Linked DNA regions of Homo sapiens. The protein of the gene in region 1 purifies or fractionates together with the protein of each later gene. This does not show direct contact. Each region holds a gene or a part of one and is shown on either strand. Other genes may lie near its edges.

Region 1 (3,654 bases):
TACATCCCCGTGTAGGAACCACAAGCCTAGGTGATCAAATTATACCAGTATCAGTTCTTCGTTAATTGAACAACAAAATCATCTGTAAATGTTTTAGTCAGGAAGTTCTAACACCCTAAAACATTATGATTCCATGGAGAATACTGTATTACTCCATCTTGATCATGTACCATATATTAAGCACAGAAAGGTTAGCAGTTGTTTTTGGGTTTTTTTGAGACGCAGTTTCACTCTTGTTGCCCAGGCTGGAGTACAATGGCGCGATCTCAGCTCATTGCAACCTCCGCTTCCCGGGTTCGCGCCATTCTCCTGCCTCAGCCTCCCGAGTAGCTGGGATTACAGGCACCCGCCACCATGCCCAGTTAATTTTTTATATGTTTAGTAGAGACAGGGTTTCACCATGCTGATCAGGCTGGTCTCAAACTCCTGAACTCAGGTGATCCACCCACCTCGGCCCCCCAAAGTATTGGGATTATAGGCGTGAGCCACTGCGCCCGGCTTAGGTTAACAGTTCTTACTGTGTTCAGGACTCTGTCCCTCATTCAGTAATACAATCTAGCACTGCCAATACAATCTCAGAATTGATTTCAAAAAAATTGTATGAATTATCACCTCTGCAGAAAGAGGAAATATTAATAAACATCCTTGAAGAGGAATCACCAATGTGGAAAAGATCAGATTAAGAGTTAAAGGCAAATCCTATCACTTACCAATAAGCCGGGGCTCTGAAGTAAAGTCTCTTGGGGGTACTGGAATTTTCTTTACTATGTACTCACAAACAACTTCAATATTGTATTTCAGCTGAGCTGAAATTGGAATAATGGGAGCTCCCTCTGCTACTGTACCTATATGACAAAATTTAGAAAGATCAAAATTATACAGTTTTATAAAATTTATTCTATGTATCTGTTACATAAAACAATTAAGATTACTATAATAAAATAGATGCCTAAACCCCATATAAATGTCAGCAACAAGTGGAAAGTGGATAATTCTGTTTAGAAAGATGGCAATATTGTTTGTTTTTACTCCTGAAAATGAATACAAATCCCTGTAAGAGAAAATTTGTTACATTATATTAGTAGACATACTTAATATTAGTACAATGATAAACTTATTTAAATAAAGAAAATACTAACATTCCTGTGAAAGAGCACTCTACTAGTTGAAAAAATTTCTAACAACATGTAATTAATCTCCCAATAAATGTCAAGATAAAATTACAGACTCTGCTAATCAAAGACTGCTGGCATATATACTTTTTTTTTTTGGAGATAGGGTCTCGCTTTGTCACCCAGGCTAGACTGCAGTGGCATAATCACGGCTTGTTGCAACCTCCACTTCCCAGGCCCAAGCGATCCTCCCACTTCAGCCTCCTACATAATAGCTGGGAACACAGGTGTGTGCCACCAAGCCCAGCTAATTTTTTGTATTGACAGAGTTTTACCACGTGGCCCAGGTTGGTCTTGAACCCCTGGACTCAAGTGACCCACCCGCCTCAGCCTCCTAAAGTCTTGGTATTACAAGTGTGAGCTACCACGCCCAACCATATATATTTGCTACGTATTGATTATACGTCAAACAAGCTAGTCAAAGAAATAGACCAAACACAATTAGACTTTAATCAAATTCACTTATTACTTCTCGTGATGACAGAACTGAGTTCATAAGAAATTAACCTTTCTAAAAAGAAAAACAAGACTGAGAGAGAAAATGTCAACAATAAATCACATCTCCTCTGAAATGAAAAACATTATGCTATTAGAGAAGGGACACTCTAGAGATTTATTATTTATTTATTTGAGATGGAGTTTCGCTCTTGTTGCCCAGGCTGGAGTGCAATGGCGTGATCTCGGCTCACCGCAACCTCCGCCCCCCAAGTTCAAGCGATTCTCCTGCCTCAGCCTCCCAAGTAGCTGGGATTACAGGCATGTGCCACCACACCCTGCTAATTTTGTATTTTTAGTAGAGATGGGGTTTCTCCGTGTTGGTCAGGCTGGTCTCGAACTTCCGACCTCAGATGATCCACCTGCCTCAGCCTCCCAAAGTGCTGGGATTACAGGTGTGAGCCACCATGCCCGGCCGACACTCTAGAGATTAAATAATCACTGTCACTTCCAAATCTGAAAGCTGTTCAGTAACAAATACTGTAAGACAAGGTTTTTTAAAATTATTTTATTCATTTTACTGTCACTGAGATTTTTTTTAATCTGATTGATAAAGTTTCCAGAAAACAACCTCAGTTCTAACTTGCTGCCAGCAAAAATATACTTTAGTATATTAAATTCAGAATCACAGGTTTCATTAGTTATATCAGGTTACTAACAAGCAAAAGGTAGGGCGATAAGGCTTAAGACTTGTAAGTTTACCTTGTTTTAGATAATATATTAAAAGTTAATTTAACATCTGGTATCCAGAGTAAATGCCTCTCAAAGTGATTCATAGATTTATTTCATATTATGGCTTCTTACCTTGGACAAATGCAAGGATCTGCTCGTATTGTTCTTTAGCCTGACTTTCTTTTACCAAATCAATTTTATTTTGTAGAATCAAAATATGCTTCAGTTTCATGATCTCTATAGCAGCCAGGTGTTCCGATGTCTGAGGCTGAGGGCAAGATTCATTACCAGCTAGTTGATGAAGAATAAAAAAGATGCATATAAGAATAGCTGGAAATATCCAGAATAGGCGGGCAAATCCATAAAGAGACAAAGCAAATTATGGGTTGCAAGGGGCTGGGGGAGGAAAACATGTGGACTGACGCTTCATGGGCATGGGGTTTCCTTTTGCGGTGATACAAAAGTTCTGATACAAAAGTTCTGGAACTAGATAGTGGTGAAATGACAACCACTATGTTGTAGAAAATTGTCAATGTGCTTAATGCCACTAAATTCTACCCTGTAAATACATAAAATGGTACATTTTATGAGTCTCTTTTGCCACCCACTCCCCGCCCCAAAAAAAGTTGGCATCTAATAAAGGAGACTTCTGAATGTTCTAACCCTAATAAGGAAGATATTATTGCCAGGTATCCACCTTTTGGCCCTGCTTCATCCTCTGTTGCCTGCATTCACTGGAACCTCCCAATTGTGTGGCTCCCAATCCTGGTCCTAAGCAAGAAGCTTAAAATCAGCAAGTTTGGCTTTTCTCAGGGTCTGCACTCAGCTTTTGCTCAGGTATGAGGTATAGCCCTCTAACTCTCTCCAGTTTTAGAAATGTTCTGGCCCAGGCAAGCTCCTGAGAAGTAGAGAGTAATTAAAAGGGAAAAGCACTTAATACTGTCTATGAATTTTTACTAATATCAGAGGCTACTCTTCAACTGAGGGAGGGAAGAATGCTATTGTGAAGATAACCAACAGTGTATTATAAAGAAATAGGCATGTTTTGTTGAGCACTCTAATGATCAACCTCCTCAAGTCGTGATATTCAAGTGTCCTGACTATACCAACATGGCATGCTTTAAAAAAAAAATTTTTTTTTTGAGACTGAGTCTCACTCTGTCTCTGTCACCCAGGCTGGAGTGCAGTGGCGTCACCTCGGCTCACTGCAACCTCCGCCTCCCAAGTTCAAGCGATTCTCCTGCCTCAGCCTCCTGAGTAGCTGTGATTACAGGTGTGCCCCACCACACCCGGCTAATTTTCGTATTTTTAATAG
Region 2 (3,654 bases), on another chromosome or scaffold:
ATTCGTTCCACCAGAGTTAGGATGCAGCCACGGACACGCAGTGGCTGAAAAGGAAGGCGAAGGAGGAGTCAACAAATTAGCCCAGATCTCAGTCTCAAACCTCAACCCTCGGGTCCCACTGAGCCTTCCCAAAGCATAAAATACACACCTCCAGTTATCCTGCCAACTCCTCCCTTTACCTGGTCAGCGTTGTGCAGGTTCTCACTCTCTTCCAGAATATTCTCTCCAACAAAAATGTTGGGATTTGCAAACAGGATATCCATCAGCTCATTGATGCAGTCCAGGCACTTCCCCCACATCTCTGGCTGCCAAGATTTCAGGCCACATCAGAGTCAGAGGTGTGAAGGTAGAGTAAGCGGATGCCTCCCCCTTCAGCAGGAATCATGGGGCCTTCCACCACCAAGACTGCCTCCATAGCCCCTGAGTCTTAAGATGCTAGGTACCTTCTTCCCCCAACCCACCAGCGATGCCCTGAGATGAGCCTCTTCACTGCTCTCACCTTCATGTAGGTTGCCAGGTTGGGGTTGTAGTCATAGAGAGAGGCGATGATATTGAACTTGATCTTGACAATGACGCCCTCTCCCAGGTTGTTTTCCGCTGCAATCTGAACCAGCAGTTGCAGCAGCTCAATCTGGGCAGCACTAGAGGGCCAGAGAGCTGGGTGAGGCTTTGGAGACAAATCACAAAGTCTCTCCCAGCATGCCCGCTTCGGATAACGCGCCCTCCTCATCACCCATATCCCTGCTTCTCCTTTATAAATTCCAAACAGAAGCAACAATAATCCCAACCATCCTGGAATGCTGTGAAATGCTTCACACCTACCACCATCCTCTGTTACCTAATAACTAAAGAAGGTAAACACTCTTTTACTTTTTTAATCTTAAAAAAAAAAAAAGCCAGGTGTGGTAGCTCATGCCTGTAATCCCAGCACTTTGGGAGGCTGAGGCAGGCGGATCACTTGAAGTCAGGAGTTCGAGACATGGTGAAACCCCATCTCTACTAAAAGTACAAAATCAGCCAGGGATGGTGGCGGGTTCCTGTAATCCCAGCTACTCAGGAGGCTGAGGCAGGAGAATCGGTTGAACCCAGAAGGCAAAAAGGTTGCAGTGAGCCGAGATCGCGCCAGTGCACTCCAGCCTGGGCAACAACGAGACTCCATCTCAAACAAAAAAAAAAAAAAAAAAAAAAAGAGGAGAACATTATCTCATTGTATAGATGGGAAAACAGATCCAAAACGTTAAGTGATTGGTTTTAAGTCACAAGAAGAGTAAACAGCAGATAATGGACGGGGATGCCCCAAGCATACAATTCCCTCTACTACAGCCACACACAGACCCTCCCAACAATCCCTTCCCCCAACCTCCACCCTCTGCCACCCTGCAATCCCACTGCCCAGGCCCACGAATCTTACCGATCAGTTCCCTTCTTGCCTCGTGCCTGTAGGATCTCATTCAGTTTCTTGATAACAACAGCATGGGTGATCTCAGTTCCCTTGGCAAACATTTTTGGCTTCTCCTGTATCAGTACATATCCCGTCATGTACATGCCAGCGGGAAACTGTCCTTGCCTTTTCCCCACAAGGGGACCTTTATGTCCTCCCAAACTGTTCCCCAATTCATTTTACCTCTGAAACCCTCACCTTAACCAACGGCACTCCGCCCCGGACCCTTTCCCACTCCCCGCCTTCATTGTCCTCCTCCTCCTCCTCATCCAGGCGCTTGGATTTCCTGTCGTGCTTCTTCTTAGCTTTGTCCTCCCGTTTCTTCTCGGCTGCCTTCTTGTCCTCATCTGTGGTGGGTGCCCTGCCGACAGACATGGGAGAAGATGACAGATCAGCCCCTCCCCACCTCTAAGGCTTCTTCCTCCCATCAACTTCCTCTTTTCCTCCAGCAGCTCCTGGGTCCAAGTTATGCTCTACAACAATGACCTAGAGGGCACAGTGAACCATAACCATAGCCATCTCTAACAAGACAGAGTACTAACCAGGCCACTGTAGACATATTAATAGAAACAACCTGTCAGCTAAGCATGGTAGATCACTTGATGTCAGGAATCCAAGACCAGCCTGGGCAACATGGTGGAACCCCATCTCTACTAAAAGTACAAAAATTAGCCAGGCATGGTGGTGCACGCCTGTAGTCCCAGCTACTTAGGAGGCTGAGGCACGAGAATCACTTGAACTTGGGAGGCAGAGAAGGCTGCAGTGAGCCACAATCATGCCACTGCACTTAAGCCGGGGTGACAGAGCAAGACTCAGTCTCCAAAAAAACAAAACAAAACAAAACAAAAAAAAACCAACCTGTCATTTTGCTCCAAAGCTAACATCTACAGTTTTCCAAAGAATCCACAAACAACTTATTTTCTTTGATACCAGCTGCTTTCTCCAGACTGACCAACTAATCAATGAATCAGTTCCCCCAAATATATAAAAACATTTTTTTCTTTTTTACTATTCCTAAACTGTTTTATCGCTTTCTCTCCTCTCTTGACAACCGATTAATCTAAATTCTGAATTTTAAAAAAATGTTCATTACAAAAAAGGTCCCCACAAAACAGAAAAAGATCACCAGCTACCTTAAAATGGTCTTAGGCTACTGGATGTTGCCTGAAACCATCTCCAGACTTGAGTATGTATTTATGTAACAAAATACAAACCAAATGGCAAAGACAAATTACTTCAAACTTTGCACAGATACTGAAGAATAAATCTTTCCAGAAAGACTCAACATTTTTGAAAACTCATATGTAATAACCATAATCTACCATTTGAACATTTATAAATAAATTTCATTTTCACTGCTTAAAAGGTTTGAATATGTTTTTGGAATAGTCTATAAGTTTACCAGTTAAATTAAGTCTTCCCTTGCCAGAAGACCAATGCCATAACTCTCAACAAAAGTGTATGGACTGGCCAAGCACGGTGGCTCAAGCCTGTAATCCCAGCACTTTGGGAGGCCGAGGTGGGCGTATTGCTTGAGCCCAGGAGTTTGAGACCAGTCTGGGTGACAAGGTAAAAAGCCCGTCTCTATTAAAAACAACAACAACAACAACAACAACAACAACAAAAGCTTATGGATCTTTCCCCTGTACCACTGCAAGACTCTAATGATGACTCACTTTATAGGTAAAATCCTTTGCAAATATGCAAAGCATGTTCATTAAACTAAAACCTCTTGGTCCAAACCATCTGTATAGCTCTGAGATCAGAAGAACTAAAGCTATTTTTTAAAATGAATGCTTCAAAAGAACTTAAACTTCCTTGGCTAAAGTATTACTTCTAGCACTAAAGATAGTATGATACACACCTCAAAAGGGAAATGTACTATTGTATGAAATTCTAACTGAAAGACCTAAGACTTGGCTTGACCTCTCCTATGACAGATTATACTCTGGTATATTCATATCTTGTTAGAAATTATCAGATAACAAATGTTTATATCCTCAGCTATATAATCAACAGATAAAAGCAACATTTCTAAACGAGTATTACCTCTACTTAATACATAGTTAAGAGACTAAAAACTCATTATTGAGAGACACCAACGGAAGTCAGGCCTAACTACACTGCAGAGGACCACACCATTTTCCCATGCCTTCCCAACCACAACTACTGATGGAAAGCCCTAGATGTATACCCTTGCTTAGGATCCTAAC

The links.
Region 2: the proteins of EIF2S3 (region 1) and EIF3CL purify together in Homo sapiens (affinity purification with mass spectrometry; one large-scale study listed by BioGRID and IntAct). This does not show direct contact.

What each region holds. Positions count from the first base shown.
Region 1 is NC_000023.11:24,061,392-24,065,045, reverse strand, and holds part of EIF2S3 (eukaryotic translation initiation factor 2 subunit 3), read right to left. Parts: intron 2,631-3,654; coding exon 2,472-2,630; intron 846-2,471; coding exon 711-845; intron 1-710. UniProt on the Homo sapiens protein: Member of the eIF2 complex that functions in the early steps of protein synthesis by forming a ternary complex with GTP and initiator tRNA.
Region 2 is NC_000016.10:28,390,341-28,393,994, forward strand, and holds part of EIF3CL (eukaryotic translation initiation factor 3 subunit C-like protein), read right to left. Parts: intron 1,803-3,654; coding exon 1,640-1,802; intron 1,516-1,639; coding exon 1,412-1,515; intron 712-1,411; exon of another isoform or gene 642-711; coding exon 500-641; intron 306-499; coding exon 180-305; intron 45-179; coding exon 1-44. UniProt on the Homo sapiens protein: Component of the eukaryotic translation initiation factor 3 (eIF-3) complex, which is required for several steps in the initiation of protein synthesis.